2 separate regions of the Homo sapiens genome follow, and region 2 is linked to region 1. A link means that fine-mapping ties the variant in region 1 to the expression of a gene that starts in the linked region. Tissue or cell type: whole blood. Region 1 holds a variant in brackets; the other region holds the start of a gene. All regions are shown on one strand. Distances are from middle to middle.

What was found. PIP is the estimated chance that this variant, and not a neighbour inherited with it, causes the effect.
Region 2: it holds the start of FHL1, and the variant in region 1 is fine-mapped to the expression of FHL1 in whole blood (TOPMed, PIP 0.98).

What each region holds. Positions count from the first base shown.
Region 1 is chrX:136,064,424-136,070,092 of GRCh38, reverse strand. No RefSeq gene overlaps it. Among named protein-coding and RNA genes, the nearest start is that of SLC9A6, 82 kb to the right of the region's middle. The variant T/C (reference allele first, on the strand shown) is at 2,969.
Region 2 is chrX:136,194,320-136,199,988 of GRCh38, reverse strand. FHL1 (four and a half LIM domains 1) reads right to left here and starts at 2,942. Exons shown (of 6, transcript NM_001159699.2): 1 at 2,855-2,942. The coding sequence starts at 2,876.

The sequences.
Region 1 (5,669 bases):
TATCCCATAACCCCTCCCCTTTCCTGAACTTCTGTGAGCATTTCTTGGTTCCTCAGATATGTGCTGCACTGTGAGTAGTGGCCCTTCACACTTGTGGTCCCTTCTGCTTAGACAGGGGAGCATTTTTCCCTCCACACATCCTCTCCCAGTTGACCTGGCTAACTTCTACTCAGCTTAAATGCCTCTTCCTCCAGGAAGCCTTCTCCGATCCTTACACTCAGCCTTCAGAACCTTTACTCTATGTTTCCAGAGCTTTCTGTCTGCTTTTCCTGTCATAGCATTGATCTAACTGCATTGTAACTGCCTATCTATCCGTCTGTCTTCCTAACTAAATTATTAGCACTGGGGAGAAGGGACGTCTTCCCTCTTTTTGTAAAAATTTAATTTTATTATTATTAGTTTTAGAAAGGGGGTCTCACTCCATTGCCCAGGCTGGAGTGCAGTAGTATGATTATAGCTCACTGCAGCCTCCCAATTACTGGGCTCAAGTGATCCTCCCACCTTAGCCTCCTTGGTAGCTGGGGCTACAGCCATGAGCCATCACACCCAGCTAATTTTTAAATATTTTTTTGGAGATGGAGTGTCTCTATGCTGCCCAGGCTGATCTCAAACTCTTGGCCTCATGTGATCCTCCCACCTTACTCTCCCACGTAGCTGGAATTACCTCTTCTCTTTTGTTCCCCTCTGCATGTCGGGTCTAGCTCATAGCAGGCTCTTTCCATCAGCTCATCCTTATACCTAGAATACTCCTCACCCTCACCTTTGAAAGTCTGGCTACTTATCCTTCAGATTGCTGTTTGAAGTCTGCTCTGCTCATGGATGTTGTCCTGACCATGCTATCTGAGCTAGCCCCCCAGTCACTCTATCACATCACCCTACTTTCATTCTCTGTGTTGCATTTGCCACTCTTGGATCTTTTCCATGTTTGTGTGTTTCTTTTTTGTTTATTGGCTGTTTTCACCAGAAGGAATATACATGCCATAGAAACAGGGCCTTTGTCTGGTTTTGCCCCACATTGTAACACAGCATCTAGGCAAATGCTTGGAATGTGGTAGGATGAGTGTTGGATGAATACATGTTGGATAAGTTGAATGAATGAACTGATAGTGAATGATCAGTCAATCAAACAATCAAAGGTAACCCTCAGAGGAGAGCAGCAATCCTCAAGTGGAAATGGTAAACCAAGTGAGGAGCCTGTGCTGCCCCAGCTGGGATCTAAGATAAGTCATCAGATGTTCCCTAGGGGTGGCCTACATTCTCCCAGCATGCATCACCTCTGGCACTAATTAAAGGAGGACACTAGGGAAGGTTCTTTTTCTACGTTTCCAGATGGGGCAGACTCTTGATATAGGAAGAAAAAACAAATTGCCCCCTATGGCAGGCTGAAGGGAGAGGCTGGCAGACGGCAGCTTTTTAGAAATTTGGGTCGGTGCTGGAGACTTGTTAGTCAGTGACAGGTAAGACCTGGGACACAGATAACACATGGACACATGGACACTCATGAAAAACAGTAGACCATTGGCTAATGATAGAACCCAGGGCAAGGCTGAGCTATCTGGAGGTCTAATGGTCCTTTTGAACAATCTCAGCTTTTCTGGAAGGCAGTGAAGAGGAATGTGGGCTAAGAGTCCCTGCATTGCATCTCTGTCCGGCCTTGAGCTGTCTTCAAACAACCCCCCAACCTCCCCAACTGAGAACAAAGAGCCATCATTTCCACCTCCAGAAGCTTTGCCCACCAGAACGTGTCCAACTTACTAAACAGGGCTCCTTACCCCTGTGAATACTAAGAAGTAAACCGAAACAGAGCCCTTGCCAAGACAACTTCTCCCTCTCTCAGCATCAAAACTGAGGTCCTGTGCCTTCCAGTAAACAGTTCTGAAGTTACCCGCTTTCCTTTTTTAAAATTGCAAGCCGAAAAGCTCTCTAGCAAAGAGTCCCTCCCCCACCCCTCTCTTTCGTGGCGAGCCATGCCAGTTTGGCCATCTCCCAAGGACCAGTGATGCCAGGCATTTTATGAACAAAGCACAAGTTCCTTTGGATGCTGGCTGATTGATGGAAGTCCTGTGGGATTCGACCCTTGGAGGATTCACAGACAAATTACTTGATTATTAAGTACTACCAGAATAGAAATTAAGCTCAAAATAAAAAAACAAACGCCTCAAAGTCCCACTTGCTTGCTATTTACATATTGTTGTAGACAATTAAGCAGACTATGTGTCCTCTGGTCCAAGACACTAGTCTATGTGTGATGTTGCACAAACAATAGAAGACATCATTCCTGTCCTTGGAAAGGTCCAGTGGGACCAAGTCACCATGTGTGCAAAAGGCATATATGTTCATGAAGAAATGTGTAGTACACACATATATGGTGTGACCAGCTCCTCTCTCTGCACCATGAGTGGTCTAAGGGTCTCAGCTTTCTTTTGGGCACCAAGACACAAAGACTGGGCCCCATAATATCAGGACTGGGTCCCACTCCTCTCCCCAGGCGAGAAAGCAGCTCAAGCTTAAATTCTGGTCTCTGAAGGAAAAAAAAAAAACTCAGAACAAAAGAGCCTCTCAACCCAAGCTACCTCTGATTGATCCAGAACTGGGTAGTGAGGTGGGGTGGTGCAAATCCAGGAGAACTGGGGAGGGATTTGCTCTTGTGGCTCCAGCCCTACTCTTCCTTGCTTCTGAGTAATGCACTTGATTATTCTCACTCATGCAAGCACATCGAGTTTAGTGGGAAGTATATACACAAACAGATCTGAGCAAGTCCCCGCTGAGTCCTGCATCTCAGACTCTGGCAGCACAGAAATCAGTGAAGCAACTGTGAGCTCATAAAAATTTAAGACGCTTCGTGTGGGAGACAGTGGCTCTGGATGCAAAGGCGGGGAGGAAAAGAAGTAAGAAATGACCAAAAAAGCTAAAAAGCTGAAAAGCAACTTGTTATCTTTTTGCTTCAGGAGTGACCACACCAATACCC[T/C]CATTGTGGAATGGGCTTAAGGAAAATGAGAAAGCAAAAATGTGGAGCAATAAGTAGGCATTTCACGGTTTTCTAAAACCACCAAACTCCACACCGCCTCCACCCCGCAGTCCAGAGCACACTGTGGTCCATGATATGAGCAGGGCCAGTGAATGCTGACATGCCCATCCATAGTATACCACATTCCAGCTCCTAGGGGACTCTTTCCTATCCAAACTTGGCTGTGATAAACGGAACTGAGCAGAGGGCTTCCTCAACCCTCAGCTCATGCCATTATTAGCCAAATGGGTACAATGCACCATGCCATAGCAAAATCCACTAACAGCAGCTGGGAAGAGATGGGGAAATACAAGACAGATGGTAAAGTCCTTTGAAGTATGGATACAGTCCCTAAATAGAGAGGAGAGAGCCACACACTGAACATTTCATTTTGTAAGACATAGAATGGCCCAAATGCTGAAAACATGCACTACAATTCCAAAAGTTGTTTCCAAAGTCTAACTTTGACTCTCAAGTCCTTGGGTGAAGATACCTTGCCTCTGAAGACATCGTATGTTGAGCACTTTTTAAGGAACTAACCTCAGAACATGCAACCAATTCCTTGGAATATCCTTAGTGCTGAATTTGCTGTTGTTTGAAAAAATAAGCCAACATTGATCCATGGCAACTAGGCAGATGTTCCAACAAGGCTGCACTACTTTGGGTCCAAAAAGAAGGTGAAGTGGATTTTCTCAGGTGTCACATAGCTTGGCTCTGAAGAGTACTCCCTGCAATGTCTGGCACACTGGCAGCCACATTGGAATAAGTGTGCAATTTCATTTTTCTTTTCTTTTTTTTTCTTTTTATTTTTTTTAGACAAGAGTCTTGCTCTATCACCCAGGCTGGAGTGCAATAGCGTGATCTCGGCTCACTGCAACCTCCGCCTCCCAGATTCAAGTGATTCCCCTGCCTCAGCCTCCCAAGTAGCTGGGATTACAGGTGTGTGCCACTACTCCCAGCTAATTTTTGTATTTTTAGTAGAGACGGGGTTTCACCATGTTGGCCAGGATGGTCTCGAACTCCTGATCTCAGGTGATCCGCCTGCCTCAGCCTCCAGAAGTGCTGGGATTACAGGTATGAGCCACCGTGCCTAGCCTAAGTGTGTGCAATTTCTTTAGGGAACTTCTTAGAAAGGCAACACATTTAATAAATGTGCAAGTTCTGATGACATTTAATACATACGAAAGCCCCAATATGCTTGCTGAAAATCAACCTTTACCTTTTTTGTTGTATCAGGTGTTTGGGGAAGAGGGGAAAGGAATGGGCGGGTACTCAGTCATGGGATGAGAGCACGCTAAATCCATGTGCCCTCTTCCTAGGGTGTAGGAGGAGAGAGCTTCAGCGCAGGGTTCAGCAAACTTTTTCTGCAAGGGCCAGATAGTAAAAATTTTCAGCTTTGCCTGCCATATGGGGTCTGTTACATAACTTAACTCTGCTATTGCAGTGCAAAAGCAGCCTTAGACAATACTCAAACAAATGAGCATGGCTGAATGCCAATAAAACTTTATTTGCAAAATCAGCTGGGAATGGATTTGCTCTGTGGGCCAGATTTGGTCTGCAGTTCCTAGTCTGCCAACCCCTGCTCTTGTGCAAAGCAGACACTCATTTGCAGACTTCTTGTTTGACATCTCCAAACAACTTGCTGAAAGGTAAAGGGGCAAGCAGAGGTCCCTGAGCTCCCATAATCACTTCTCTTCAACCATTCTCGGTTGAATCCCATGATGTCATTCTGAAATGCAGTGGGTCATTGACAGGGTCACATTACTCAGAGAAAAACAGGATGTTTGACACCTAAAATATTCAGAACAAGCCCAGAGCTCATCTCTGCAAAAATGCTCTTATATAACAGGAAGCAAGAAGAAAGGGAAAGCGGCGACAGGAGGCTGGGAGGGGACAGCCGCTCTTGGAGAAGGCGCACCGGGTTGGGCTCTGACGGCAGGCCTGCTGCCTAGAGAGTACATCTCTGCTTGCAGCTGTCACTTCAGTGGACAGATGACTTCATTTCAGCTCCCCCCCTCCAATAAAGAGGCAATAATCTCTCACTTGGGAGAAATACCATATGGCAGATGCTTTGCAAAGTTGTAAGAAAACAGTATAAAGTACTTAGCGGGGAAATGCCACTTCCAAAAGCATAAAATTTGTCTAGAAAGGGATCAGGCAGTGTCTTTGAAATACCATAGGTTCCCAGAAGATGAAGTTGAAACCAGTGGGATTGGGTAACAAGAGGGGCATTATCAAGGCAAGTTAACACAGACATCTCCTTTCTTGTGTTTACATACCTTTAGTGTGGCTCAAATCCGAAACACTTATTCCCAAAGCTCACCCTGAACTGCCCTTGCTGAAATCTCAATGTCCACTACTCTCTACCTTGTACTTCAGGCTCGAAAATAACAGGTCTTCTTATTCCCCAAAGACCCAGTGGCATGAAGCCTCTGGCATGTGGCTTTGTGTCTCTGGGCATTTGGTCATGCAGGTTTCTTGTTCTGGAAGGGCCCTTCTGGCTCTTCAAAATTTAGCCTCCCTTGGCTGTTTACTGGGCCTCCCAAGTGTGTTCAGCACCCCCTCTTCTGTGCTACCTTGAGATCTTATACATATTTCTTTTGTTGTACCTAGTACATCGTCGAGTCATTTATTTGATTATATGACTTATTTCCTCCACTAG
Region 2 (5,669 bases), 130 kb before region 1:
AACATTACAACATTTGTTTTTTTCTTTTTTCTTTTTTACTATAAACCTCTCATTACAGTCGATTTGTATTTAATAAATCTTGCTTGTGTTTTTACATGTATTTTCTCATGTATTTCTTCCTATTGTTCATCTTCTCCCTCATGCCTGAGTTGCTCAAACTATGAATATTTAAGGAGAATGTGAATATCATGAGTAGGTAGCATTTTTCTATGTGTTTTCCATGAAGGGTGTAATGTACAGTGTAAACAATGAACAACAACCCAAATGGAAAAAAATCAGGTTATTTCAGATCTGTTCTTCACTAAATCCAACCTACCAGTACATTAGTGACTCCACATATAAACACTGGCTTCTAAAGAAAGGGTATAATGCTTTCCTCAGAACATTCAACAGATGGAGCAAAGCCTTAGCCAATGAATAGGACACTTGTGTAATAGACATGCTAATGCACCTGGAGGTGTCGTCAGACATTTGGGAATAAATACCTAAGTAGCTGCAATGAGACGGAGCTCATGAGTCACGGCTGAAAAGTAGTCTTTCATACAATTTCATACAAAAATCAGAAAGTGTTTTTTCCCTTCAAAATAGAACGTGTACAGAATGATTCAATGTAATTAGCAACTTCACTGGTATGCTGCATTTAGAAAAAAAACAAATCTTTTTTGGGTCACTGATGTATAACTAATGCCATTTTAGATTATATCGGGTGTCAGGAGGGTTCGATATAGATTATTAAAAGAAAAATTATGTGCCACTGAACTTCCTGCAGTCCAGATTCAATTCTAGTACCATTTTGTCTGTATATGAAGATTTTTCATAATGTTGCACAGATTACGTGCAACACAGCCCCTCTTTCATATGGGAAAAAAAGCATTTCTGACCCGGCAGCAAAAGAGCATGTGTTTTTAGTTTCTCCAGCTGTGGTGAAGTAGTAGGTAGTCATTTGGTGGTCATCAAAAGCACAAAATGTTCAGTTTCACTCTCACTCAAATCTTCTGTATTTTAAGAAGCCAATCCAGTTGGATTACTTTCCTCTCATCCTACCCTCTCATTTTCCATCCCTGCCCTGAGAAAAGACTGGCGGGCTTGTGCGGCCCACTGAGCAGCAGCTGGTGAAGGGAATCGATGGCTGTGTAATATGGCAAGTGACCTGATCCCCCTCCACACCCCAAACCTGGTTTTCGACTTGAAAGGCCAAAGGCTAAAGAAATTGAATCTACATAATTTTGCAGACAGAAAGTCTTCAATGTCAAGAGTATACATTGTTTTTGTCCTTGAAATGTCCTCTCAGTATATGGATAGTCACTAAAAATGGATTTGGATCCAATTATCCTAGCTTCTATTTTGCCCATACTGAGCCCGTTTCAGGGCAACACTGATTTTCTATGAGGACTTCTCTGTCTCATGGACTGATTCTTCTCTGCTTTCATGAATCTATTAACCTAATGCAATACAAAATGCAATTTCCTGAATTCAAAAATCATCTAAAAGGTATAAATAATTGGTCCCATTTAGCCACAGTTATTAGAGCCTCCAGACTTACATACACAAGAACGACATAAGAATTTGGTGCAATTTAAAACCCAAGGTTGGGTATGCTATAAACTTTCTGTCACTATTTAAACTTTTAAACTTTCTGTCACTATTCTGTCACTTAATTAGTAAACAAAATGAGAGTTATTCTACCAGGTAACATGCATTTAAGGTTCATCAGGACAACTAGCACAGCTGACTAGTTTGCCTACACCCAGAGAATGTGTATCTTGGCTGATAACCACAATCTCAAGCATTTGGTACCATGTTTGTGAAACAGCTCCTGAGGGTTGGAAAAAAAAAAAAACCAGACAACTTTTGAACACTTGGGAACAGGGAAGACATTACATATTAATTCATTAAGGTAGGGCATTCCATTGCAGCATATTTAAAACCCCAAAAAGAGAAATTTCCTAAAGTATTTCCATTGTTTAAATATTGACAGGCAATGAGTTTTAAAAAATGATTTTTCAAAAAAAAAAAAAAACATAGATAATGACATCCCTTAATCTGAAAGCTGGGAGACAGGATGAAGTGCCTTCTTTATATCTAACCGTCTGACTTTACCAGCCCCAAGAAAGGGAACCGTTACTTAGGCAGAGGGCCACAGGGCCACAGCCACCCTCCTGGCTTCAAATAACTGGGCTTTTGGCCCCTCAGCCCCTAGTTCATAGATTTCTTGTCGATGGCCAAAGGGCTTCCTTAATTGTAAGGTTACAAAACCAGAAGAAAATGCTCATGTCCCAAGGAGTCCAAAATGTGCCCCTTTTTCTGCTAAAAACAATTAATAACATACTTAGCATATCAAAAGGAACATAGCTGTTACTTCGGGAAGATTTAAAACATTGTCAGCAAAAGGGAAGATGTGCTAGGTCATTATGGACTTTCTTAGTTACAAATGTTCCTCCTTTCAGCTCCACATTCGATTTACCTTCTCCAAACACCTTGGATGTAAAGCACTGTCAAGATGAAGAATTGTATCTTATAAAAAAGAAAGCCAAAAATTCCTAACCAGAAAAACCTTTCCTCCCACAATCTCTTATAGTTTCATGAGATGTCCTGAAAAAGGTAAAAATATAGTGGTAACATGTTTATATACTTCTTTTTAAAATAAATCACTCAAACTGTTCATTGTACTTGAACAATATTTTGTCTTTGAAATAGCATGAAAGGCAAAGGCAAAACAGAGACAAGCTATAATTTATTTACTATTCAGACAAGACTAAAATCATTTCATCAAAAACCATCTTTTAGCCCAATGACGGATTCACTGCCCTAACAAAACTGTGCTCAATATAAGATAAAGAGCATGAAGTTTTACCTGAGTGTCTATGGGAAGCCATGGCTCAGAGACCAAGTTCAGGAGCAGCACCTAGACCAGTCTTCCCTCAACCCCAGCTGATAAGGCTGTGGCTCATTTGTGAACATACATTTAAGGGGAAGCGGCTAACACAAAAATAACCGAGAGCAGATGTCCCACCCCTCCCCAGAGATCACAACCTTAATCCCACTAGAAAATTCTTAACCATTTTAGGTGATCCAAGGGAGAAGAATAGGACCCAGTAAAAATACCAAACGCTACATATAAATACCTGCGGGGCTACTCAGCATCCAAATTAGCTCCAGAGCCAGAGAGGCCACATAGAAAGTCATCCCTGTACCGGAATAAAATTTGGACTCGGCTCTGGCATAGCTTAACGCTGAGCCAACCTTATTAATCCACTTTATATGCCTCAAGAGCTTGCATTTGGCCCTGTAAATAATACATTTTTGTGCTGTTAATGATAAAAGTAACTCTAAGAGATAGACTTATGTTACCAGTGTAACTCAAGGAGATTAGACAGTATGAATATAGAGATTAAGGGGATTATAGATGTTGTCACTCTATGTCCTCCTTAGTATGTTCCAGAGATCAGCAGATTACTGTACAGGAAAGGAGAGTGATCGTAATCTCCCCACCTCCTTAACGGCAGACAGCACAGAACAAGATGGGGAGACTATGCCTATCCCCATCACACACACAATGAAGACATTTTGTCTCACAAACTCAACCTCTTGTTTTTCAGCATCAGGGACAATAAAAGGAAAAACATGAATGAAAATGAAGACATCAACCTAAAATGTTGTAATAGCTCAACAGGCCATCAGATGTCTGGGGGCTGGCTATTAGGAGCATGTTCTAGGAAAAGAAAGCCCCCAAGTCCCTCCAGGACCTTCTTCCACATTCCTTCTCTGGCCTTACCCTTAGCCCCCTTTCCCTCACTCCCACCTCACTGGCCTCCTCACTGTCCCCTGTGCCCAGAGTCATGGTTGTTCCTTTCCCTACTTCAAGTCTGCTGGTATTGCACTGATTTCTCTCCTTGCTGTCTGATCTCCTGCTTTGCTCCATGAAGGCAGGGATTTAGTACTGGAGCTCACTGCAGTGGCCCCAGAGCCTAGAACACTGCCCAGCTCCCAGGAGGCTCTCAATAACTATTCCTTGAAAGAATGAACTAAATAACTGAAAAATCCATCAAGCCTCCAAAACATAGTCCCACCTGCAATCCTGAAAGTGGTTTTGGCCACTCAACTTCAAGGAAGGCAGCTGACCTTCTCGCTGGTACAGACACCTTTATAGCCACTGTCTTGTTTAAGTGGTTTTGGCCCTATTCACACATCTCCCCTACCAGGTTGAGGGCCAGGGCAGTGCTTTGCTTGTCTTCATGTTCCTATAGCACACAGTAGGTGAGCAGTAAATGCTCCATGAATAAATGAATGAATGAGTTCCCCAATTCTTACGATCTTCAAATGTTTAAGGAAAAGTTATTCTAAAAGACAACTGACATCAGTAACTCCCAGTTAGCTAGAAAATGACACAATAAAAGCCAGGTTGTTACGAGTAAATTTATTACATGTTAGAGGAAAAAAATAAGCCTGGGAAAAGAAGAGAAGCTACACTGTGCTCTGGCTCCACGCCTTTCTAGTCTCTTTCTCATCCAGCCTGATTAAATTATGGTGCGGAGATTAGCCAGTTGTAACAACACCACACCCCTAAAATAAACTGAAACTTTTCACCTAGAGGAAATTCTCTTACTTTATTAGATGATTAACCTTAATGAACCCTGAATTTTTTATTTTAGCAAGTTATATTTTTAGGAAGAGCCCATGTATGTTGAAATGCCTCTCTTGCAGCGCTGTGAACAATAGGCTTGGTGTGCCAAATACTTTCCTTTAGGAAGTCAATTCCTGTTTCAAGCTATGCATCAGGAAGTGTCTTCTTTTAGGCAAGTATGGTAGTTCTTTAGGTTTCTGATCATTTTGAAAAGTGACAACAGAATATGGATAGACAGCTTTATGAAAGTATCAAAAAACAAATCTGTTTTGCCTAAAATACAAGAGAAAATTCAAAGACAAGAGAATCACTTTTTGACCACCATGAATTAGTCAACTATGACCAGCCAGGATGGACTGGGAGCTTGGGCCTGCAACAATAGCATTTATTCCAGTTACTTCCATTTGCATCAACCAGGTAACTGTGCCCTCCTAAAAACTTCATGAAGCATGACCACTACCTGCTCTGACATCTGGCCCTACTGCAGATGTCCTCAAGCCACAGAATTAGACCTTCCACAAAACCAAGACAGAAACAGCCCCTTGCATGATGAGAAACAATTTCTTAGGAAGAATAGTTGGTAACTTTGTCCTGTCTTGGATCAGTGGCTCAGAACCCTTGCTGGCTATTTCACAGGTACCTGGAGTCACGGGTTTCATTGGCATATTAGTCAATCTTGTTATATATTAACAGTATGATGTTTAATAATATCTTTAAGAATCACTGTACTGTTTACAACGCACCTTTATATACTATTGGTGGAGTTGGCTGGTGTTTGGGAGCAACTCTCTTTGGTGTATGATGGTTACATTTCAGGCCTTCTAGTCTCACACTCTAGCAGTATCCGGACGCTTTTTTCAGTGAGTGCTAGGTATCAAACTCCCTGTTTCCCTTCCATGTGACCCTCTGCGAATCATTTACTTCAGGGTTTATCTACACATCCTTATGGTCCTACTATCTGCAGATACATTATGACCTATTATTGGGTTAACCTGTAGATAATGCCGCCCCAGCCATTGCTTTATTGTATATGACAAGCATTTAT